7 linked regions of the Homo sapiens genome follow. The protein of the gene in region 7 interacts with the protein of the main gene of each other region in a pairwise test. Each region holds a gene or a part of one and is shown on either strand. Other genes may lie near its edges.

Region 1 (4,236 bases), on a different chromosome or scaffold from region 7:
ACGAAGGAGAGAACACTAAACAAGATACAGCAGACACGATTGCTACCCTTACCGACCTTAACAATTTACTCAAATAATAATTAATTATGATTGTGATAAAGGAGGTACAGGCTGCTATGAAAAATAAGACTGTGTACTCAATCAAGTCCAGAGGTCCAGAAGAGCCTTTTGAGAAACTTAATAAAGGCTCTTATATTTTTGCTCTATTTCTTTCCAGTATTCTTCATACACATGCGTTTTACATAGTTGTAATACACATTACATAGAATTTTTTTTTTTTGAGAGGGAGTTTCATTCTTGTTGCCCAGGCTGGAGTGCAGTGACGCGATTTCAGCCCACCGCAACCTCCACCTCCAGGGTTCAAATGATTCTCCTGCCTCAGCCTCCCGAGTAGCTGGGATTACAGGCGCCCACCACCACACCCAGCTAATTTTGTATTTTTAGTAGAGACGGGGTTTCTCCATGTTGGTCAGGCAGTCTCAAACTCCCCACCTCAGGTGATCCACCCGCCTCGGCCTCCCAAAGTGCTGGGATTACAGGCATGAGCCACCTCACCCAGCCTACATACAATTTTAACCCTTTAAAGCTTATATATAAGCCAAACTCAGAAATGAACATTAAGATCTGATAAATGTCTTAAAATCGCTTTCCAAAAGGATTGAACACCCTTACCCGATAAATAAATGAGAAAACATTTCACTGTACAGTCTCAGGCAATAATTATAGGAAAAATAGCTCACTGCAGTTTTAATTTGCATGATTAAGACTGATCATTTTTTCATGTTTCTTTACGTTTATGTATTTTAATTTTTTCTGCACACATAATGCTTATTGTAAAAACTCCAAACTTCACACTATTTGAGAGTGCTCAAAGTGAAAGCCTCCTGTAATCTTTACACCCAGAGGGATCTACAGTTAATTATTTGTTATATATTCCCCCAAACTTTTTTCTACACAATATTTTAACGAAAATGGTACAGTTATACACACTTTTTGAATATAATTTAGTAGACTTTATAAGTACAAAGTCATGGCAATCTAGTGGGAGAAAAACAGCTTTTTTATGTCAATATTTTAAAACTTTTTCTTGACCATTTATCAGTTTGTCTTAAAATAAAAATTTATCTCAAATTTGAGTTTTACATTCTTCTTTTTTTCTGTATGCCTTGAAGACACCATGAGTTTTACATTCCTAAGGATCTTCGTATTCCTTCTGCCCAGAGGCAGCCGTCACCCTATAGGTGCTCAAATGTTTGATGGATGAACGTTTTTTAAAAATTCAGTGTGCAGTCCAAGATGAAAAACCAAAAAGTGAAGCACACAGAAAACCAAATATGTATCTTCTGTCGGGGACGACTCATCCTAAGAGAATTTCTTCCGCAAGAAGCTCAAAGGAACATGTTCAAGAAAAGAAGTAATTCTCAGGTTATGCAATTGCTAGGTTATTCTTGTCGGTTTTTTCCCCCTAGTGTTTTGATTGTTCTTTTTAATTCGTAAAATTGACACTGAAATATAATATCAGGGCGTTAAAATATCTCTCTGTAGCACAACTGTTCCCCGAGGCAGGAATCCAGATCGCATTTGGAGAAAAGAAGGCAGCCCTTTAACAGCCCAGTTAAAAGCTCTTTCCCAAATCGCGGACACTCGAGATGCTCCTCGGGCCATCTAAAAGACTGCGGAGCAGCCAGGAGGGCGAGCGGCAGGGAGCATTAGCTGGCTGAGCACATAAAAGCCTCCCTACGTAGGTATCCCCGCCGCCGCGCGAGGCCGGAGCATCTCTTCGCGCGCGCTTCTCTCCCGGATCAATAACCTCCGCCCCCTGCTCCCTCCCTGGCAGTGCCTGGAACAATGACGGGATTTTGCTTCCCAGTGAGTTCAAAACTATTCATGCTTCCTTCAACGCTTCTACCTTTCCCTTCCACCCACCCTCAAAAACACGTGTGCAAACACAAAAAAAAAGGGGATTCGGGTAAGAGAAAGCCGTGGGATTTATGTTCTTTTCACTAAGAAAGGCCCCCACACCCTTTGCGCGCCAGCAAGAGACAACGTCCCCGAGCACGATGCTTATGGCCGGGAAAGACTCTTTGTGTCCCAAGACGGCTGCGCGCGCCCTCAAGCTCCGGACGAAGCCCCCTTTCCATTCCCAGGCCACACAGCCCTAGAAGCACCGCCCCGCCCCGCCGCCCTTAGAATTAAGGAATAACCCCAGTGCTAACGGGGGAGCCGCGTCGGCTCCGTAACGTGGAAGGCTCAGAGCTGAAAGGCGCCCAAGGCCTGCACGCGGGCTGCGAGCCCGACTCCTGCCGAGGGGGTCCGCGTGGCAACGGCTCCCGCGCCCCCCGGCCCGCCGCACTCACAAGGTGTCTAGCAGGAGCTTGGCGGCACCCTCGGAGGTAAGCTTCTGCCGCTTCTGGAACGTCTCCCAGCGCTCCCGCTGCTCGCCCAGGTCCAGGTTGGACGCCGAGGACGTCGGGGTCGCGGGAGTCGGCGGCGGCGGCGGCGGTGGCGGGAGCAACGCCAGCTCAGGCGGCGGCGGCTCCCCCGGGCCCTCCTCCTGGGCCCGCGGCGACGAGCGCCTCAGCCGCGGCTTCTCCGACGGCGGCTTCTCCACCGCCTGGCTCTTGCTCCCGGCCTGGCTAGCGGAGCGCCGTGTGCGGGTGGCGCTGGGTGCCAAGGCAGCGGCCGCGGAGGCCGCGGGGGCCGCGGAGGCCCCGGACCGCTTCTGCCCGCGCAGCTTGGCGGCCGCAGAGCTCCTCGATCGCCGCATGGCTCCCGCAGCCTGGCGCGCAGGCCTCGCAGCGCGGCGCGCCCCCGCCGGCCTGCGCGCGCCCCCGCCGCCCGCCAGTCTTCAGGCCCAGGGGGCGCTGCGCCCGGCTGCCCCGCTCCGCCAGCCGCGCCCCGCAGCGCGGCGCCTGCCCGCAGGAGGGAGACCCGGCCCGCCCGGCCGCTGGGACGCACCTGCCTGTTCAGTCCCGCAGGCAGAGGGGCTGCGCCTGGGCCTACGCTCGCGATACCCAGAATCCACTCGCACCTGCGAAGGCGCCCCTGCCCTGTGTGAATCCAGCGGGCTCTTCGTACCTTCCCGACCTGGAGGGGCCTGGGTTGGGCCTGAATTCGCAGGCTCATCCGAGCGGGCAGCCTGGGGTAACTTCGTCTCCAAAAACGAGCTAATTTGTGTAAACGGCCTGCCACCTGCTACCTCCTGTGTAACAGCGGCCGAAACCATAGTTCTTCACCTTCGTCTTTTCTGTCACATTATAGAACAGTGTCATGAGGATACCAATAGTCAACAGATTTGGGGTTTCATTTTAATTAAATGAATGACCCGCGCGTCGAATTTCATTAGTATGATTTTGATGAAGGCAGCACCAAAGTTTAAAGACAAAAGGCACGAGAATCGTTGATGGAACCCAGATAGTCTTCTTCTCCTTCTCCTTCTTCTTCTTTTTTCAGACCGAGTTTCGCTCTTGTTGCCCAGGCTGGAGTGCAGTGACGCGATCTCGCCTCACCGCAACCTCCGCCTCCCAGGTTCAAGCGATTCTCCTGCCTCAGCCTCCTGAGTAGCTGGGATTACAGGCATTCGCCACCACACCCGGCTAATTTTGTATTTTTAGTAGAGACGGGGTTTCACCATGTTGGTCAGGCTGGTGCCGAATACTCCCGACCTCAGGTGATCCATCCGCCTCGGCCTCCCAAAGCGCTGGGATTACAGGCCTGAGCCACCGGGCCCAGCCTATCTTTCTTTTTTTTTTTTTTTTTTTTTTCTTTTTTGGAGTCTCACTCTGTCGCCAGGCTGGAGTGCAGTGGCGCGATCTCGGTTCACGCAACCTCCGCCTCACCGTTCCAGCGATTCTCCTGCGTCAGCCTATCTTTCTTCTTTATTCTGATTTTCTTCATGGTATTGTTAGTTTAATAGTTTATTGAATTAAAGGCATAGTTTAACTATTTTGTCTTTTTTTTTTTTTTTCCATACAGGATCTGACAGACTGGAGTGCAGTAGCGGGATCTCGGCTCAGTGTAGCCAAGAACTCCTGGCCTCAAGCGATCCTGCCGCCTGGGCCTCTGGAGTAGCTGAGTAGCTGGAACAACAGGCGGCGCCCCCCCCCCCCCCCCCCCGCCCCAGCGAATTGTTGCTATTGTTGTTTTGTAGATACCGGGTTTCCCTATGTTGCCCAGGCTGGTCTCTAACTCCTGGCCTCAAGCGATCCTCCCGCCTAGTTCTCCCCAAGTGTTGGG
Region 2 (3,500 bases), on a different chromosome or scaffold from region 7:
ATGTACCTACATATTCCAACTTCTATAACACATCACAATATCGCCAACTTGCCTGTGTTTATCAAACCCAATGTTGAGCAAGCCCATAAACAACCTACACCTCTGACTTGGTGTGAATCACACACTTTGGTTGCTTACCTGGCAGAGATCAGCATGTATTGAGGTCAGCTGGTTTGTATTCATCTGCATCTTGTCTATGGCTTGCTTAAGGATGCCAATTCCTCGCAGGGGCTGTCAGAAATGACATCTCTTTCAGATAAGTTCTCAAAGATGGCAGCACATTGGATCTTATGTTGTCACTTATAAATAAAAAATAACACTAATTGATAGGTTCCTTTAAATAGCAATATGAGGTTTCCATACTCTTTCAGGAAATTTCTGTCCCATTTAAGTCAGAAAACTTTTCTTAAGCTGTTTCTTGGAATTTTTAGATAACTCAGCACCATTTTTTAAATCATAAAAAGCTTTTATTTTTACAATGAAGATCAATAATCAAAAACAGTATTACTTTCTCAACAGTTTATTATATTAACATCTAAACAAATGAAAACTTTCCAAATCACTTATTATACAAGAGACAACAGCCTATGCTTAGGAAAATTACTTGTGGCTAAGGGTGTTGGCATTTTCCCATAGGGCAGTCTACCCCTTACCTGGTAGTAAATTACTACCAAAACTAACACCATAGATTTCAAAAGGACTGTTTCCTGCCCTGATTATAAATAAGAAGACCAAGTGTCAAGTAAGGCATAATCAGTTTTTGGCAGACTAAAATATAGTCTCTTCCAAAATTGCTGGGCACGGTGGCTCACACCTGTAATCCCAGCATTTTGGGAGGCCAAGATGGGTGGATCATGAGGTCAGGAGATCAAGATTATCCTGGCCAACATGGCAAAACCCCATGTCTACTAAAAATACAAAAATTAGCCGGGCATGGTGGGATGTGCCTGTGGTCCCAGCTACTCAGGAGGCTGAGGCAGGAGAATCGCTTGAACCCGGGAGGCGGAGGTTGCAGTGAGCTGAGATCGCGCCACTGCACTCCAGCCTGGGCAACAGAGCAAGACCCCATCTCAAAAAAACAACAACAACAACAACAACAACAAAAATATATATATATATATGTGAAGAGACTAAAAATAGCTCAATAACTTACAGCTTTTTCAAAAACTCATGATTTTTCTTAACCATCTCTTTCAAACATGGTTACTTAGTACTACAAAATAACAACTGGTTCTATTTTCAGCCTCTTTCAAACCACTAATCTTAAATTTACTTTCAAATTAAAAAGAAACACCTGGCTGGGTGAAGTGGCTCACACCTGTAATCTCAGCCCTTTGGGAGGCTGAAGCAGGCGGATCACCAGAGGTCAGGAGTTCTAGAGGCTAGCCTGGCCAACATGGCAAAACCTCACCTCTATTAAAAATACAAAAATCACTGGGAGGCCGAGGCAGGCGGATCGCCTGTGGTCAGGAGTTTGACACCAGCCTGGCAAACATGGTGAAACCCTGTCTCTACTAAAAATACAAAAATTAGCCGGGCATGGTGTCAGGCACCTGTAATCCCAGCTACTTGGGAGGCTGAGGCAGAAGAACTGCTTGAACCCAGGAGGCGGAAGTTGCAGTGAGCCGAGATTGCGCCATTGCACTCCAGCCTGGGTGACAGAGCGAGACTCTGTCTCAAAAAACAAAACAAAACAAAAATCAGCTGGGAAAGGTGACATGCGCCTGTAGTCCCAGCTACTCAGGAGGCTGAGGCACGAGAATCGCCTGAAGCTGGAAGGTGGAGGTTGCAGTGAGCTGAGATCACACCACTGCACTCCAGCCTAGGCAACAGAATGAGACTCCATTTCAAAAAAATAAATAACTAAATAAATTTTTTAAAAATCCACATTATAAATTATGTATTATAAAAGATAAAGAATGAAATAACTGTTCAGATTAAGGGACACTAAAGAAACAAAGCAGTCTAATGCAATCCATGGTCCACGGTTTTCTTTTGCTATATAATATATAGTACACTGTCCAAACAGCTAATGTCCTTTTATAGCAAAAGACAGTCCTTTTCACTGGGGGAAAATCTAAATGGGGTCTGTCAATTTGTTGATGCATTATATTAACGTTCATTTCTGGGCCGGGCGTGGTGGCTCACGCCTGTAATCCTGGCACTTTGGGAGGCCAAGGCGGGAGGATTGCCTGAGCTCAGGAGTTCGAGACCAGCCTGGCAACATGGTGAAACCCCGTCTCTACTAAAATACAAAAAATTAGCTGGGCGTGGCAGCATGCACCTGTAGTCCCCAGCTACTCAGGAGGCTGAGGCAGAAGAATTGCTTGAACCTGGGAGGTGGAGGTTGCAGTGACCAGAGATGGCGCCACTGCACTCCAGCCTAGGCATCAGAGCGAGACTCTGTCTCCAAAAAAAAAAACAGTAAGAGTTCATTTCTGGATGCTGACCATTACACTATACTATGTAACAGAATGTCCTAATTTTTAGGCTTTACCCACTGAAGTATTTAGGGATAAAGAACAGCAATAGCATATGTGCAACTTACTCTACAATGGCTCAGAATAAAAGAGGAAGAGAAAAAAAAAAGAATAAGTGCGGTAAAATGTTAACATTTGGAAAATCTAGGTAAAATGTATGAGAATTTTTTATATTATTTTTGAAGCTTTTTGTAAGGCTAAAATAATGTCCTAATTAAAAGTTAAAAGAAAAAATGTAACAGACAAAACCCAGCATATTACAACATAAAGGGTACTGGCTTGGTAATTCCAACTACTTGGTAGTTCCAGCAGCAGCCTCCCTGAGGTGCCAAACCACCCCGTGCCTCCACCTCATTCAGGGGATGCGGGGACTGCCTGAGCTTACAGCAATGGCTGTGAGTGCTCTCAAGTGACCACAGATATCTAGGTGGTGGATGCTCAGTACTAACTGGAATCTTGATAAAGTAATTCATTGTGTAAGCTAGTTACATATTATAACAAAACTAGGAATACTTGAATAGTATTTCTTACCTGTTTTCTTTCCACAAGTGCATTTGTTAGCTGATGGCAAAGCCCAGCAACTAGATACAATAACAAAATATTCAAAATATAAATATAACCACAAGGGCAAAATATTTTCAATGGAGAATAAAATGTTATTTAGCTTACAAGTGTCTGTTGCATATCGAATGTGCTCCCCATTACAAGTGCTGATGAAGAGCTGAACCTGTGAGAATAGCGTTTCGAAGTCAGGAACACTGGGCATAGAAAACTTCACAAACCTAGAATAAGGAGAAAAGAATCAAATTACCCTGATAGTTCATGGGATAAAATACAGAAACAATGTATGCAAGAAATCCATCCTGCCTCCAATACTCTGTAAAATTAAATGAGCAACAGTATTTTTTAGAATTAAGAACTAGGCCAGGACAGTGGCTCATGCCCGTAATCCAAGCACTTTGGGAGGCTGAGGCAGGAGGACTGCTTAAGGCCAGGAGTTTGAGACCAGTCTGAGCAACA
Region 3 (3,500 bases), on a different chromosome or scaffold from region 7:
ACAAATTTTGCTGGGCATGGTGGTGCGTGCCTGTAATCCTAGCTACTCAGGAGGCTGAGGCAGGAGAATCACTTGAACCCAGGAGGTGGAGGTTGCGGTGAGCCAAGATTGTGCTCTCCAGCCAAGAATGTCACTCTAGCCTAGGTGACAGAGCAAGACTCAAAAAAATAAATAAAAATAAAAGAAATGGATAATTAAAAATACAAGTTGAAACATAAACACCCATTCTTTTTTCTTTTTTAGTTGAGCACAGCATCATCAATTACCCCACTTTTTAATGAGAGAACATCTAGGTGAAATACGAGGAAATAAAATAATTGAACACTATAAGTCATTTAGACATAGCAGACATCTGCAGAACACTGAACCCAACAACAGCAAAACACACATTCTTCTCAAGTGCAGAAGAACGTTCTGTAAAAGAGACCCTTTGCTAGGCCATAGAAGAAACCTCAACACATTTTAAACAATAGAAATACAAAATATTGGCCGGGCGCGGTGGCTCACGCCTGTAATCCCAGGATTTTGGGAGATCAAGGCAGATGGATCGCTGGAGCTCAGGTGTTCGAGACCAGCCTGGGCAACATAGTGAGACCCTGTCTCTACTAAAAATGCAAAAATTTGCTGGGTATGGTGGCACACACGTGGATTCCCAGCTACTTGGGAGGGTGAGGCACGAGAACTGCTTGAAGACAGAAGTTGCAGTGAGCTCTGATCACATCACTGACAGAGTGAGAGTTAGTCTCCCCCCACCAAAAAAAAAACCAGAAATAAGTATGTTCTCTGACCACAATGGAATGAGAAATGAAATCTGAAACTAATACAGAAAATTTGGCAAATTCACTAATATGTGGATATTAACACACTCCTCCATAACTAATGGATCAAAGAGAAATCAAAAGGGAAATACTTCGAGATGGATGTAAAATAAAGACATAATATACCAAAACTTATATAAAGGAAGTTAATAGCTATAAATACCTATCCTAAAGATTGCAAATCAACAACCTAACGTGGTCCACCTCGACACAATAGGAAAATAAAACTAAACCTAAGCAATTAGGAGTAAGGAAATAATAAATATTACAGGCAAATTAATGAAATAGAGAACAGTAAAACAATAGAGAAAAATCAATGAAACCAAAGCTAGTTGTTTGAAAAGATCAAACAAAACTGATTTAGCAGCCAGGCACAGTGGCTCACACCTGTCATCTCAGCACTTTAGAGGTGGGTGGATCACAAGGTCAGCAGTTTGAGACCAGCTGAGCCAATATGGTGAAACCCCGTCTCTACTAAAAACACAAAAATTAGCTGGGCGTGGTGGCGGATGCCTGTAATCCCAGCTACTCAGGAGGCTGAGGAGGGAGAATCGCTTGAACCCAGGAGGCAGAGGTTGCAGTGAGCCGAGATCGCACCATTGCACTCCAGCCTGGGTGACAGGGCAAGACTCAGTCTCAACAACAAAAAAGTGGGGAAAGGATGTAAATAGACATTTCTCCAAGAAAAATAAACATTGTCAGTAATTAGTCATCAAAGAAATGCAAATCAAAACAAAAAGGAGATACCACTTCTCACCCACTAGGATGGGTAAAATAAAAAACTAAAAAAGAAAATAAGTTTTGGCAAGGATATGGAGAAACAGGAATCTTCACACATTGCTGGTGGGAATGTAAAATGGTACAACCAATTAAGAAAACAGTGTGGCAGTTCTTTTTAAAAGTTAAATGACTTCTAGTTTTTGGTCCAGCATGTAAGGAGCTTGGAAGTTATTATTCCCTTGTAACAAAAAGCTGAACAAACTGAAACCTCAACAAGCTCTTCTTCCATCCTTCAGAGAACTGATGTCACAAGGCAAGCTCTGCCCCCTCAAACTGAAGAGAGAGGCGGATACAGAGAGTCATAACTTACCAGAACACGCAACCATGAACAGAAGCCTCTGTGGGAACCGTTACTTAGATGGGAAACCCTGAGCTGTAACTGATGAATTGCTGGGGGCACAGCGGGCCCAAGTCTGAGTTAGCAATCTCAGGGGGCCCAGTCTTGTAGAGGAGAAGAATAATGATTTTGAAATAGGCTAGATATTTCTGCTCTTTCTCACCGGGCCTTTCCCTTAAAACTATTTGATCAGAGCCTCACCTGTTGGGGTTTCATCAGTGTCTAAATTACCTGTGGAAAGAGATGTATCCCCCATCATCTTCCTCTATTCATCTTGTCCCGCCAAGTGAGAGGAGAAGGAAGAACTGAGAAGCACTTGTGAAGTTCAGTGTCGCGGGGCACAGGCTCAAGAATAGACTGAGACGTCATCAAAGGATCAGGGAATCCTTGCCCTCTGCCCACATCTCACCACTGGGTTACTAAAGGTCTATTTACTTCAGTGCCTTTCACCCAGTACATTGCGTCTGGCTTTCCAGAAAGAAATGACAAGGCATACTAAAAGGCAAAAGACAGAGCTTGAAGAGATAAAGCAGAACCCCTCATATATGGCAGGGACATTGGAATTATCAGACTGGGAATTTAAAACAAGTATGATTAACAGGTGAAGTGCTCTAATGGAAAAAGTAGACAACATGCAAAAACAGGCAATACAGGCTGAGAAGTGGAAATCCTAAGAATGAAAAAGCCATGGGAGAGATTTGAAAAGCACTGTAACAGAAATGGAGAATGACTTTAATGGACACATGAGTAGACTGGGTGTGGCTGAGGAAAGACTCTGAGCCTGAAGACATGTAATGAAAACTTCTAGGTTGGGTGCGGTGGCTCATGCCTGAAATGCCAGCATTTTGGGAGGCTGGGGCGGGAGGATTGCTTGAGGCCAGGAGTTCAAGACCAGTCTGGGCAACATAGTGACACCCTGTCTTTACAAAGTTTTTTTTGTTGTCGTTTTTTTTTGTTTTTGAGACAGACTCTCCCTCTGTCGCCCAGGCTGGAGTGCGATGACACAATCTCAGTTCACTGCAACCTCTGCCTCTCGGGTTCAGGAGATTCTCCCGCATCAGCCTCCCGAGCAGCTGGGATTACAGGCACCCGCCATCATGCCCAGCTAATTTTTTTGGTATTTTTGTAGAGACAGGGTTTCACCATGTTGGCCAGGCTGGTCTCAAACTCCTGACCTCAGGTGATCCACCCACCTCGGCCTCCCAGAGTGCTGGGATTACAGGCATGAGCCACCGTGCCCGGCCACAAAAAGTTTTTAAAAATAAGCTGGGCTTGGAGGCATATACCCTGTGGTCCTAGCTACTTGGGAAGCTGAGGTAACAGGATGGCTTGAGCCCAGGAGATTAAGGCTGCAGTGAGCCATGATTGTACCACTGCACTCCAACCTGGCTGATAGAGCAAGACCCTGCCAAATAAATAAATAAATATCTCTAGGGCTATCACTAAAAAAAGGAAAGAGAAGCATACCTGACTTGCTAAGAAAGGAGAAAAAATGGAATCACACAAAACATGCAATCAAAACCAAAAAAGGCAGAAAAAGAGTGGAAGACAAAATAAGGAACAAC
Region 4 (3,049 bases), on a different chromosome or scaffold from region 7:
AAAACTTTTCCTTTCTGAATATTAGATAATTTTCCCCATATACAATATTACCATCTCCTCTTATTAACTGTGTATTCTAAATCAAATTCTATGAAATGAGGAGGTCATGCTTAAAACTTTTTGACCTTAAGACAGACTTATTTAGGAATTTGTGGAGGAGAAAAACTATAAAAATAAAGTATTAATATGAACCAAAACTATTATTCATTTCCTTATATTCCTGGATTGAGAAATGCTGGGCCACTATTCATATTCTAAATCTTTGTTGCCCATATTTCCACAGAATTCTAGTGTGAGGTACTTCTGAGATCATTTATTCCAGCCCACTTGTTATAGGAACTGTAGTTCTAGATGACAGCCCAAATAATTCCGGTGACTGGCCAGACCAAGAGTTCAGGCCCCACGTTCCCCATCTCCCACCTAAGTCAATATGAAAACAGCGCCACCTAAATACAGTCAAAAGACAGACATTTTCTAAAACTGCAGCAGAACATGGCACAAAGTCTGTTCCTTACCTTCAATCCAATGACATTCTGTCCATTGATTTCACAGATGTTATGTTCCGTGAGAAGACCATTTCTGGCTGCAGAGCTATCTTTCACTATGGATGTTATTTTTCCATTTTTAAAGATAAAACCAACATGTCCAGTGCTATCCTTATGCATGGTAATCGTCCGTTCAAAGGGCCTACAAACATAATTGGTTCAATTAAAAACTTAATTCTAAGCTAAACATTTTAATGGATTTCATATAGCATAAATGTTGCCATATTGGATACTTTTATAATAAACACTGTTTCTAATAAGAGCAACTTATGGCTCTGATTTTATACATTCACGGAACATCTTTGTGTAAAAGTTTTTTTTAAGTTTATTCATTATGGTTTGACTGATTTACTAATCAACATTTCCTTCTTTAAGTATAAAAGACAACTGCTTTATATGGTTTTATCAATATGTTTTTCTTTTATAATTAGACTTTACAGCATTAAGAATGACATAGGCTTTTTAACTAAATCACAGTGGTAAAGATAATTTTTATTTTTTATTAACTTTTGGTATTTTCTAGAGCCAAATCATTTTTAGGACTATTTCTTTTATTTAAAACCTTTAAAATATTTCTCACATCTTGATTTTGAAAATTTTATACATTGCTATCTTTGAAAAGAAAAACTAGAGCAGCAGTAAGACTTAAGTTCCTCAAGCCCCTTTGGAAAGGGAGGCATGCAGCTATTATTAAAAGGCATCCAGCTGTCCCTCTAGAGTTGTTATAGCAGTCACATTTGCTTGATTCTCTATAAACTCTGTTATCATGTTATCATAAGGGTTTTAGGATCAACTTGTGTTTACATTATTAAATTCAGAAGAGGCATTTCTTCCTGTTAGTACAACTTACTCTTTGAAACTCTGCTTAGATAGAAAGTAAAAAGGACATTCATCTGAAACATTTACGAAATACCTAAACTGAATGAGAAACTGGAAACACAAAGATAAAACAGAAGTTTCACTGAGAAGGAACAAAAACTCAAAGCTTACTGTAACAATGCAATATACGTCTACCCTTAATTGGGTATGGAGTAGACAAGAAAATAAATGGAGGCCCCTATTTCATGTGCTAAATGTTTAAGTTCTAAATGAATGAGCTGCTAAATAGAATATTCCATGTTCTTGAAAACTACTGCTTCATAACTACCCAAAAGTCTTGATACGGTTTTCAGAACTCCCATACTACTTGGAAGTCTGCATGGGCTCTGACCCTCACAATGAGGGACCACTGTGTGTGAACACCCTAGGCTGGATGTATCTAAGCAGTAAGTTGGAAAGTGAGCCCAGAGATGCCCTGCAACTCAGTTACTTCTCCAACATACGTTTTCTATTTTCTAGAGAGATTTGTCCTATAAACTCTGAAATAAGGTATCGTATCAGAATGCTTTAAAAACAATGTAAGAAAAATCTGCACCACACAACTGCAAGACTATAAGGCTCATCAATAACATTTGATCATTTTCTGCAACAAAATAATATACTCACAAACTCTGAAAGCCCAAAAAAATGGAAAACTAGTATTGAATTTTCATTTGAGCTGTTTAGTAACAGCTTACCTGTCACGAATGGTCATGGTAATCTTCTCTCCAAAAGCCTGTTTGAGCACCTTGTGCGCTTTATCAGAGCTCCATCCTGCACAGTTTTCACCATTGATCTGAAGTACTTGGTCCCCAAATCTCAGACCAACCAATGAGGCTGGAGAATTAGCCTGGACTAGCTGAACAAATATACCCTAGATAATAAGAAAATAATTTTTGTCATTTACCACTACTATGATACGGTTTTAAACGCTGGAAAATTAGGAAACAACTGTTTATGTTGAAAACTCTACCCCAGTGACAAAAAAGAAAGAAAAAGAAAAAAAGGAAAAACTATATGAGTATATTAAGTTATCACCTCAAAAGAAACTGAAAAATTTATCAAGACAGCAACTCCAAAGAATAAGGCAAAAAAGTGAGATTTCAATGGCAATTTCTATACCAAATCATGACCCACCTGACCAACCACAATCCCCCCCTTCAACTTGGAATACAAAACTAAGGAAAATACAGTAGGACAACTTTAATAAATGCAAGCGTCTGAGTCTGATAGAATACCAAATTATCAGTACATAATCATATTTAGGGGAAAAGCGAGTCACATGTTAGAAAGTTTGATGAGTTCTTTTACAGCTTAATAAATGACAGTTTAAGGTCATAATTCTACCTTTTGAGCTGAAGCATTCCTTTACCCATTTGCTAAATTGTGTATAATCAAGTAAGATTAAAGTTTATTTGTTAGACTAAAAAGATGGGCATATTAAATCCACATGCACAGGCTTATAAAGAACACACAATGAAATAAATACAGAAAACTCAAATACTGTTAACCAATAACTACACTCACATGGATATTTTTACTTATGTAAAATCTCAATCAGAAGTTGAACAAAATATAAATAGGTAAGTATAAAAGAAGAATAAGCCTGGTAAAATATAAGTGCATCTACTTCTACAATCCTAAGC
Region 5 (3,500 bases), on a different chromosome or scaffold from region 7:
GCTGTCAATTTCTCGTTTAGTGTTGCAAGTCTTGAACGACAAGACATATCTGAGAAAAAGAGACTGGTGTTCAGGATTAATGTCACTCCAAACACAGACACAGACACACACAACACCTACAATGAAAAAGAGGAATAATACACAGAATACAAATGGAAATGGATACAGTGCTAAGATCCACTCATAGCACAGTTGCTTAGAGTGGATCTGCTGAACTTCCTATCAAGTGTTGCAAGTAGAGAATAACGGCCCCACAAAAACGTCCTTTCCTGCAGGGCACGGTGGCTCATGCCTGTAATCCTAGCACTTTGGGAGGACTAGGCGGGTGGATCACCTGAGGTCAAGAGTTCGGGACCAGCCTGGCCAACATCATGAAACCCTGTCTCTTACTAAAAATACAAAAATTAGCCAGGCATGATGGCACATGCCTGTAATCCCAGCTACTTAAGAGGCTGAGGCAGGAAAATCACTTGAACCGGGGGGGGCAAAGGTTGCAGTGAGCCAAGATCTCGCCACTTCACTCCAGCCTGGGTCAAACAGCAAAACTCTGTCTCAAAAAAAAGTCCTTTCTCTAATCCCTGGATCCTGTGAATATGGATTATACATGAGGAAACAGGGCTTTGCAGGTATGATTAAGGTTAAGAACCTTGAGATCCTAGAGTTTGTCTTGGATTGTCCATTTGGGCCCAATCTAATCATAGTCCACAAATGTAGGTGAGAAAGGCATAGGAAGGGGGTCAGAGATGAAATGGAAGAAGAAAAAGAGATTCCAAGTGTGAAGGGGATGCAATCTGCCATTGTTGGCTTTGAAAGTGGAAGAAGGGAGCCATGAACCAAGGGATGTAAGTGACCTTTAGAAGCTGGGAACAACTCTCAGCTCACAGCCAGCAACAAAACAGAGATCTCAGTCCTACAACCACGAGAAACTGAATTCTGCCAACAACCCAATATTCGAGGAACTAGACCCTCTCCTAGAGCCTCCAGAAAGGAAGGCAGTCCTGCTGAAACCCTGATTGGAGCCCAGGCCAGGAGCAGTGACTCATGCCTGTAATCCTAATACTTCAGAAGGCCAAGGTGTGAAGACTGCTGGCCAAGGTGTGAAGATTGCTAGCCCAGTGACCAGTGTTTGATTTATGACCTACACATGGTAAATAATAAATGTATGTGGTTTAAGCCACAAAATGTGTGGTAATTTGTTTTTTTGGTTTTTTTTTTTGAGATGGAGTCTCACTCTGTTTCCAGGCTGGAGTGCAGTGACGCAATCTTGGCTCACTGCCACCTCTGCCTCCCGGGTTCAAGCGATTCTCCTGCCTCAGCCTCCTAGGTAGCTGGGACTACAGGTGTGCGCCACCATGCCCAGCTAATTTTTTTTTTTTGTATTTTTAGTAGAGACGGGGTTTCACCATGTTGGCCAGGATTGTCTCAATCTCTTGTCCTCGTGATCCGCCCGCCTTGGCCTCCCAAAGTGCTGAGATTACAAGTGTGAGCCACTGTGCCCAGCCTGTGTGGTAATATGTTATGCCAGGAATAGCAAATGAATACACCAAGGCTGTACAGCCATTTACTAATGGCCTAACTAAGACTTTCAAGAGAGGGGACATGGCAAGAATAAGAAAATAATCTCAACAGGAAAGAAACGAGGCTGGGCGTGATGGCTCACGCCTGTAATCCCAGCACTTTGGGAAGCCAAGGTGGGCAGATCAACTGAGGTCAGAAGTTTGAGACCAGCCTGGCTAACATGGTGAAACCCCATCTCTACTAAAAATACAAAATTAGCTGGGTGTGGTGGCGGGTGCCTCTAGTCCCAGCTACTCGGGAGGCTGAGGCAGGAGAATCACTTGAACCTGGGAGGCGGAGGTTGCAGTGAGCTGGGATTGCACCACTGCACTGCAGCCTGGGTGACAGAGTGAGACTCCATCTCAAAAAAAAAAAAAAAAAAAAAGGCCAGGCACGGTGGCTCAGGCCTGTAATCCCAGCACTTTGTGAGGCCAAGGCAGTGGATCACGAGGTCAGGAGATGGAGACCATCCTGGCTAACACAATGAAACCCCGTCTCTATTAAAAATACAAAAAATTAGCCGGGTGTGGTGGCGGGCGCCTGTAATTCCAGCTATTCGGGAGGCTGAGGCAGAGAACTGCTTGAACCCGGGAGATGGAGGTAGCAGTGAGCCGAGATTGCACCACTGCACTCCAGCCTGGGAAACAGAGTGAGACTCCGTCTCAAAAAAAAAAAAAAAGGAAAGAAAGTAGAGGCCAAGAAAGCAGCAGAAATTATGGGGAGGGAAGGTGTGAGAGTTCTGAGCTCATTAAAGCCATGTCACTACTGTTGCTCCTAGAGGCAAAGGCCTTTCAGAACTAGAGAAAAGTTGGAGAGCATCAAATACCCGATAAAGCCCACATTCCATCTGTGAAAACAGCCAAAATTATTCTTCTTCCTCTAGCTTTTCCAATCTTCTTTTACCATCTCATTCAAAATGAAACCAGATTTAATTTAAAACAACTTTTTCTCTGCAAACTTCTGTAACAGGAACTATTCTTTTTCCAACTATTCTCAACATATGAGAGAAAAGGTATCTTAGCATGGTCATTATCTTCTACTCTCTCCTCCAACATTGTTGTTCAGTCATCTCTCAATAAACTTCAGTTTTCAAGTCTGAAATATTCGCTGAGACTCTCCCACGCAATGATTTAACACTTAGCTAACAAGTTTCCTTTTCATCTATTCCCTGGCTGTTTTGCAAAAGCGCTTCAGCATCCATTTTGACAAATCTTCCTACACCCTGATCTTGCCTCAACTTTCATCTTATTATGTCCAAATCTTACTCATCTTGCCTGCCTATCTCCTTCAAGGCTAAGTTCAAATTCTATCTCTGAGAGGTCTTGCCAGATGGACATAATAATTCTTCCTCTTCTGTATTTATCTAAACATTTACGGATGAATTTTTTTTTTTAAAAGAGACATGGTCTTGCTCTGTCACCCAGGCTAGAGTTCAGTGTTGCAATCATAGCTTACTGCACCCTCCAACTCCTAGGTTCAAGTGATCCTTCCACCTCAGCCTCCCGAGTAGCTGCAATTACTACTCAGTAGGTGGATGCCACTGTGCCTGGCTAATTTTTTTGTTTTTTGTTTTGGTAGATATGGGGGTCTCACTTTGTTGCCCAGGCTGATCTCAAACTCCTGAACTCAAGCAATCCACCTGCCTTGGCCTCTCAAAGTCCTAGGATTACAGGCGTGAGGCACCGTGCCAGCCTCTGAATTTCTAATTTGTAAGTTATTCATGTACTTGGTCTTTGGTTATGACTTCCCTCTTTGGATAAAGATTTTACAAATAAGAATGTGCATCACTACTATTTAAGATGGTGAAAAAGCAACAAAACCAAATGCCCATGATTGGAATGGTTTGATATAGCGTATTAATGAGACTATTAAAATAGCCATTGAAAGTTACAAGTGGCCAGGCGCGGTGGCTCATGCCTGTAATTCCAGCACTTTGGGAGGCC
Region 6 (3,477 bases), on a different chromosome or scaffold from region 7:
GCTCGGGGCTCTCACCCAGTCTCGCTGGATTTCCTTCAGTTCCTTGATGTCTGGGCTTCTCTTGCCTCAGGGCTTCCATACATGTCGTCCCCCCGAACTGGAATGCCCTTCCGTCCTTCCCCTACCCGGCTAGGGGACTGCCCATCTTTCAGGTAGGTCTCAGCTCAGTCCTGCCACCTGACTGGGCTGACCCCTTCTCTGTGTGCTCCCATGGCATGATGGGCCTGCCTCAGAGGAGCCTTCTCAGTCCCCGCCTTTCAGTCCATTTGTGCGACTATCTCTAGGACAGGACCCTGCCGTTGATGACCCTGCGATCTAGCTGGGATCAGAACTGTGGTTCAGAGGCGTCCACTGGGCTGCACTGACTGGACACAGCTTCAGAGCCAGCTTTGAGGAGAGGCTCTTCCACCTCTGGGCCAAAGGAGTCAGTGCTGGGGTTGGTGTGTATGTGTGTTGGAGGGGGGCAGGCCAGAAACTGAGACAGGAGGAGAGGAGCCAAATCAGGTAGTCACTGTATTTTATTGGAAAACATTGATATATATTTTTCTTCACAGCTTGAACTGAACACAATATTGCCCGGTTTAAAAAAAACAAAACCAAAACATTCCGAAAATGTCCACAGCCTCACGCCTACCTGCCCTTACCCTCAGCTCTTGGCTGGGTCTCCCACTATGCCCCATCCCTCCTTCCCTCAGAGGCTGGGTGCCAGAGGGTGGATGAGAAGAGATTCTCAAAGCTGGGCAGGTCCCAGGAAAAGCCACTTGATCGACCTGGGCAGTGAGGGGAAGCAGGGGGTGGGGGGTGGGGTGGGGAGGTGGTGGGGGGAGCCAGATGAAATGAACAGAAAAGGGGAAAAAACCCAGACGACTGAACTGCCCACATTGACTTACTTGTCCCAGAGGCGAAAGTCAGAAGCAAGGGCACGGATCATGCTCTCCGCTGGGGGAGTATGGGGGCAGGCAGGTGGGCGAGGGAAGAGGCAGGGAAGAGGGCACGGAGCACAGATGTGAGGAAGCGGCGCCAAGTCACCACGGAGAAGCGGGAGGTGCTGGCGGACCAGGACGCAGAGGCTGCTGTAGCTGCCGTCCCCTGGGCAGCTGGCCGACAAGACTGTTTTATTGCAGGTGCGTTCTCTTGAGAGCGTGGTGGGGCCCATCTTCCCTCTCCCCACCCTTTAGCTAGCCCAGCATGGTTCTGAACAAAATGAAAGTCTTAAGGGCCATAGAGGGGAAAGAAAAAAAAAGAGAACCAGCACATTACAAAGCGACCATCCCCACATCCATTCCTAGGACGGGCCCTCAGGGCGGTGGGTGCATCGTGAGGAGGGAGCGGCATGGGATGTTAGCACCAGGTATTTACAGAACAGCTCGAGAGCGCTTCAGGAACGCGGGCAAGTCCAATTTGCAGAGTGGCCAAATGAGCAGTCCCCACCCAGCCAAACCTCAGAAAGCCAATCAGATGGTTTCAGAACAGCAGCCAGTGGGATGTGAGTGTTGCCCACTGTCAGTCCCCTTCTGTGAGTTGGCCCCCTCGACCCCCTCCTGGGCCACATCCAGTCAACGCCACAATTCCTCAACGCCCCCTCAGTCCTTCTGGAATGCCTCTCTTGGCACCCCTGCCCCAACAGGCTGCTGGGATCTGCACGTGGAATCACAGGGCTGGTTGCATGCAACGGCAAAGGGCATGCTCTTCTGCCTGGGGGAGGGCCTCTTGTCCCTCCCAGCAGGTCCCGGGACAGGGCTGGCAGCCACCCCAGCACCCAAAATAAGATGACAAACAAGAGGAAACAAACCAAAATGGAGGAGAGCCATCCGGGCTGGAGGAGGGCAGAGGCTCCCCAAGGGGATCTGGGGAGGGCTTCAACTTATGAATGCATCAGGCCTTGGAAGACATGGATGGAAGAGGCGAGGGCAAAAGGAAGAGATGAGGGGCATGGAGAGAGACTCAGGGAAGAAGGAGAAAGAGCAATCATGCAGCTTGGGACAAATCTTTTGTTGCTTTATCAGATTCTCAGTCAATCAATTGGTGTTTGCTAGAACCGGGGTACGCAGGGGAGTGTTGAAGAGAGAGTGCGCGCGCGAGAAGAGAGAGATCAAGAGAACGGGCATCGCCAGCTGCCCGGGGGGCCTTCACTTTGCAGTCATCATCTGTACAAACTCTGTGGAGTGAAGCAGAGAGAGAGGAGGTCAGGCGGGCAGGCTAAGTGGCGAGCGGCCCTCCCCAACAAGAGGGATCTGGGGGCTTGTTCCTGAAGCTGCGATTCTCTTCTTGTTCCAGAGATCAAGCCTGGCCTTGACTCACCTTCATAATTGACCTGGCCATCTCCATCGATGTCAGCCTCCCTGATCATCTCATCCACCTCCTCATCGGTCAGCTTCTCCCCCAGGTTCGTCATTACGTGACGCAGCTCTGCGGCGCTGATGTAGCCATTCCCATCCTGGGGGTTGGGGATAAAGCCTTTCACTGGGCACTTCTCCCGGTGGGGAGAGAGGCAGTGAGAGGGGTGGCTGTCATCACCATCCCTCAGCAGTGAGCACAGTGAGGGAGGCTGCCTGAGGTGGCAGAGCAGGTTGGCAATGAGGCTGGCACCGGGACCCGGACCTCCTGGAAGTGGTAGCTCCGTGGCTCCAGTTCCGCCTGTCTGCCTGAAGGCTGGCGTCAGTCTCAGAGCCGCCCCTGGAGAGGGCTGCTTACCTTGTCAAAGACACGGAACGCCTCTCGGATCTCCTCCTCACTGTCTGTGTCCTTCATCTTTCTGGCCATCATGGTCAGGAACTCCGGGAAGTCAATGGTCCCGTTCCCTGGAAGGTGGGGAAAGGATGGAGAATGCTCTTGGCCTGGGCCCTGAGAGACACGGGCTCATCCATCACCCTGAGAGAGGCTCCCTGCAGTCACTCGGGGTGACCAGGAGCAGGGCTGCCCACGCGCTCTGTGGGGCTCACCATCTGCATCCACCTCATTGATCATATCCTGCAGCTCTGCTTCAGTGGGGTTCTGTCCCAGGGATCTCATCACTGTCCCCAACTCCTTGGTGGTGATAGTGCCATCTCCATCCTTGTCAAAGAGGGAGAAGGCCTCCTTGAACTCTGGGGGAAGAAGGGGGAGGAGTCAGAGGTCACAAGGTCCACAGGAGAATCCTTACCTCTGGATGCTGGATGCCTTCCCTGGAGGAAGGCCAAGGGCATCAGTCCCACCTAAAGAAACTGAGACAGACTTCAAGTCCCACGCAACCAGCTCTCTCTCCTCAGTGCTCAGGGCAAAGCCCTTCCAACCTTCATTCAACAGTTATTGAACATCAACACTGTGCTAGGTGAAGCTATTTTTCTGGCCAGCCAGTGAAGACAGTGGGGAAAATGGTCTGACAGCTGTCCTTAGATGATTCTACATTTCTGTTTGGTCCCTGGCTTTGACTTCTCCCTTGAAATGATGAAATGAACCAAAGTCATGGAGTGAATGAGAGCCGAAAGGATTCTTTGT
Region 7 (3,500 bases):
TCTTGTTAGAAAGATTCAGCTTGGACTCCTACCTCAGAAGGCATTTCATAAGCCTCATTGTCAGGATCCACAGGCATATCTTCCAGAATTCCTTCCTGTGGGGCTCCTTCTTCATTCTAATATTTAAAGTAAGAAGCACAAAAAGAACATGATGAAGTAGCATTTTTCACTTTTAAAAATCAGAACCATGTTTTGGAAAAATCTTACATATAGGGATGTTGGCCACGGATCTTGAAAATGGCACACCTTAATATTACTACTGGCATTCTAAACTCCACAATGCCTCCGGGGAAACATTGCGGCAACATGGGTTATCAACCCTCAAAGTATGTAAACTTTTTGCTCAAGTAATTTACTATTTAGGAAATAATCCACAGCTATAGTCCAAAGATATTTTTCACAAGATCAATGACAGCAGGAAACAAAATTTTTAGAATTGTTAACTAAATGTTCAATGAATAATGAAGAGTTAAAAAATTATTGCTGGGTGCAGTGGTTCACTCCTGTGATTTCAGCACTTTGGGAGGCTGAGGCAGGTGGATCATTTGAGTCCAGGAGTTCAAGACCAGCCTGGGCTGTTACAATGAAACCCCATCTCTACTAAAAATACAAATAAATAGCTGGGCATGGTGGCACATGCCTACAGTCCCAGCCACTTGGGAGGCTGAGGCAGGAGGATCACTTGAGCCTGGGAGGTAGAGGCTACAGTGAGCCATGTGCATGCCACTGCATTCTAGCCTGGGTGACAGAGGGAGACCTTGTCTTAAAAAAAATTATCATTCAACTACTCAGTAGATTATGATAAAGACCTGTATTACTATTACCTGAGAATTATGTAACAACTACCTATTTATGGTATAATATTTAGCAGGCTATAAAGTGTTGTCTATATTATAGATACAACCTACACAGAATTCAGACGCAAAGGTAAAAAGTTTGGAAGAAAACACAATAAAATATGAAAGTTATTTTGTTGGATAGTATGTATGTTATTTTGACTTTTTTTCTAAGTGTTTAACTTTTATAACCACTTATAATGTAAAAGCATACATATTTAACACATTAATTTTAAATGACAATGAAGAAACAAATTCTTTTCTGAAATTTGAAGACTGAGACTATACATATTGAAGGAAAATAATCAAATACATGGTCAGAAAATTTTTCTAGGTATCTCTTCCTAGACAAAGAATACTACAAAACTCAGCCTGAAATGGTCATGGCTTTGTTGGTATTCTTCACTAAATACCTTTTGTTGCTTTGCATTTATTTCAGCAAAGTAATTATAAGAAGATAAAGGTAAGTGAAAATTCAAAGAACAGAGAGGCAATGTGAGCCTAAAGGGACTTGGAGAAAGAGATCAAATAATCCCTCAGCCAACGCGGCTGATTTTCAACAACATGTCTGATGTAAAAAAGCTTCCCCATGTCTTCACATGGAAGTGACTGACAGGGACGCAGAAGTATAAGAAAATGGCTAACAGTAAGAAAAGGTCACACTAAAGATCATGCTTATGGTAGGTGGGCAGAGAAGCTTACAGATCATTCTGCCCTTGCCAATGCCCTTTTTATAAACTAAAAAAAATCCAAATAATATATAAATTAAATAAAATATGAACCACCCCAAACTACCTCACTTTAAAATGTGGAGTAAACATACTGTTTTCGTAGTGTTTCACTTCTTGGTAGATACGCCTCTGCTGCAGGATGGCTAGGCACAAGGCCTTCCATGTCACAGGACTTGAGCTCAAGTCCTAGCTTCTCTAGATGACAGAGCTTTTGTGATGCTGAGAAGTTTCCTATGCTTTTTCTGAGTGTCAATTAGTCTTAGTGATCAAACGGGACAGCAAAACCTTCTTTACAACAGGGAGAAGGAAACGACATCATTAACTTTCTCATTAATATTTAGATTACTGTTAGGATATCCAAGTATAAGGGAAATAAGGCAAATTTTTTTCCATGATTTTGAAACTGACAGAGATTTGATTTTCTAATATAATTTGTTAGAAAATTTTGATATGGACCAGACAAGTAAATATGGCAGACCTACCCTGTTTGTTGTTTGATGATCAAAAAGGAGTTGTTATGACGGAACTAAGACTGATGGATATTACTGGATTTGTTTATATGTTATTTGGCTGAACTTTGAAGGATGTACACAGATGTGTAGGTTAGGTGAGTGTGTGTGTCTGCATGGTTCCAGCCTGGGTGAGTGGGTGTGTACAAGAGCACCCTGCAGTAATGGAACAGCGTCCTGTCCGGGGTGGGTTCCCATATTGCTCCCTGAGCTGCCAGGATAGGCTCCAACCACCTGCGGCCTCCACCGAAATAATTAGGTAAGTTATTTGACTTGTTTGTATTAATCTTTCTTAAACGTATATATAGCTCACATTAATTTCAATGTTTAATGTCAGAAGTGATTTATCTTTATTTAGGAGTTTGATGGTGTTTTTGTGTCCAGAAATTTGCCATAGGACTTAATTCTTGCTTATATCAATTAGCCAATGGTAAAACTGGTTTTGTTATATGTTGTTTTGCTTCAAGTCACAGTTTCCAGAAACTATTGATGAAGTTAAGTGAGGATTTACTGTATTATGTGCCCTCTGATGGAAGTACATACACATCACCATCTTAAACTAAGACTGTACTAGTTTAAGTGGGCTATTGTTCACTGATCCAATAACTTCATCAAGTGGGAACAAGCTACACTAGGGATGACAGCACAATCCTATTCTAGAGTCCAAATCGACAATAGGGTTTACGACCTCGATGTTGGATCAGGTCATCCTAATGGTGTAACTGCTATTAAAGGTTCGTTTGTTCGACAATTGAAGTCCTACATGATCGGTGAGGTCAGGAGATCTATAGCATCCTGGCCAACATGGTGAAACCCCATCTCTACTAAAATACAAAAAGTTAGCCGGGCGTGGTGGTTCTCCTATAGTCCCAGCTACTCGGGAGACTGAGCCAGGGGAATCACTTGAACCCGGGAGGTGGAGATTGCAGTGAGCCCAGATCACACCATTGCACTCCAGCCTGGTGACGGAGTGAGACTCCGTCTCAAAATAAATAAATAAATATATAAATAGAAAAAGAAAACAAAAAAAGAAAAGCCCTACGTGATCCGAATTTGAATTTGATTAACATTTAACTATCACTGACAACTTACAGCAAATATAAGGTGGTGAAAAACATGTTCATTGCTTACAACAGTGGCTACAATCAGCAAATTTTGCACTGTGAGAAACTACACAAGACAAAGAATACGTCTAATTTCAATAAGTAAATTGCAACTAAAAAGAAGTTAGTGGGAACCTGCCGCTTAAAGTAGAAGTGAGAGAGCATTAGCCAATTGCAACCTAAGAACTTTATTTCATTCTCATTGGGAACCCTACATAAGCAAATGGAAAACACATATGAGGTAGTTGGGGAAATTTGAACACTGACTTGATATTTAAGAATTATTGTTTATTTCTTTAGGTGTGATGATATATTGCAGTT

What was found.
Region 1: the proteins of SNCA (region 7) and CENPV interact in binary tests that used the Homo sapiens proteins (3 or more experiments, as listed by UniProt).
Region 2: the proteins of SNCA (region 7) and COPS3 interact in binary tests that used the Homo sapiens proteins (3 or more experiments, as listed by UniProt).
Region 3: the proteins of SNCA (region 7) and ZNF57 interact in binary tests that used the Homo sapiens proteins (3 or more experiments, as listed by UniProt).
Region 4: the proteins of SNCA (region 7) and SDCBP interact in binary tests that used the Homo sapiens proteins (3 or more experiments, as listed by UniProt).
Region 5: the proteins of SNCA (region 7) and BRK1 interact in binary tests that used the Homo sapiens proteins (3 or more experiments, as listed by UniProt).
Region 6: the proteins of SNCA (region 7) and CALM3 interact in binary tests that used the Homo sapiens proteins (3 or more experiments, as listed by UniProt).

The regions. Positions count from the first base shown.
Region 1 is NC_000017.11:16,350,670-16,354,905, forward strand, and holds the start of CENPV (centromere protein V), read right to left. Parts: upstream 2,801-4,236; 5' UTR 2,768-2,800; coding exon 2,358-2,767; intron 1-2,357. UniProt on the Homo sapiens protein: Required for distribution of pericentromeric heterochromatin in interphase nuclei and for centromere formation and organization, chromosome alignment and cytokinesis.
Region 2 is NC_000017.11:17,267,747-17,271,246, forward strand, and holds part of COPS3 (COP9 signalosome complex subunit 3), read right to left. Parts: intron 3,263-3,500; coding exon 3,150-3,262; intron 3,062-3,149; coding exon 3,012-3,061; intron 300-3,011; exon of another isoform or gene 232-299; coding exon 139-231; intron 1-138. UniProt on the Homo sapiens protein: Component of the COP9 signalosome complex (CSN), a complex involved in various cellular and developmental processes.
Region 3 is NC_000019.10:2,910,928-2,914,427, reverse strand, and holds part of ZNF57 (zinc finger protein 57), read right to left. Parts: intron 1-3,500. UniProt on the Homo sapiens protein: May be involved in transcriptional regulation.
Region 4 is NC_000008.11:58,577,261-58,580,309, reverse strand, and holds part of SDCBP (syntenin-1), read right to left. Parts: intron 2,278-3,049; coding exon 2,102-2,277; intron 688-2,101; coding exon 516-687; intron 1-515. UniProt on the Homo sapiens protein: Multifunctional adapter protein involved in diverse array of functions including trafficking of transmembrane proteins, neuro and immunomodulation, exosome biogenesis, and tumorigenesis.
Region 5 is NC_000003.12:10,122,175-10,125,674, reverse strand, and holds part of BRK1 (protein BRICK1), read right to left. Parts: intron 50-3,500; coding exon 1-49. UniProt on the Homo sapiens protein: Involved in regulation of actin and microtubule organization. Part of a WAVE complex that activates the Arp2/3 complex. As component of the WAVE1 complex, required for BDNF-NTRK2 endocytic trafficking and signaling from early endosomes.
Region 6 is NC_000019.10:46,607,806-46,611,282, reverse strand, and holds the end of CALM3 (calmodulin-3), read right to left. Parts: intron 3,460-3,477; exon of another isoform or gene 3,087-3,459; coding exon 2,943-3,086; exon of another isoform or gene 2,802-2,942; coding exon 2,695-2,801; exon of another isoform or gene 2,438-2,694; coding exon 2,302-2,437; exon of another isoform or gene 2,278-2,301; intron 2,186-2,277; exon of another isoform or gene 2,159-2,185; coding exon 2,130-2,158; 3' UTR 501-2,129; downstream 1-500. UniProt on the Homo sapiens protein: Calmodulin acts as part of a calcium signal transduction pathway by mediating the control of a large number of enzymes, ion channels, aquaporins and other proteins through calcium-binding. Calcium-binding is required for the activation of calmodulin.
Region 7 is NC_000004.12:89,729,162-89,732,661, forward strand, and holds part of SNCA (alpha-synuclein), read right to left. Parts: intron 117-3,500; coding exon 33-116; intron 1-32. UniProt on the Homo sapiens protein: Neuronal protein that plays several roles in synaptic activity such as regulation of synaptic vesicle trafficking and subsequent neurotransmitter release.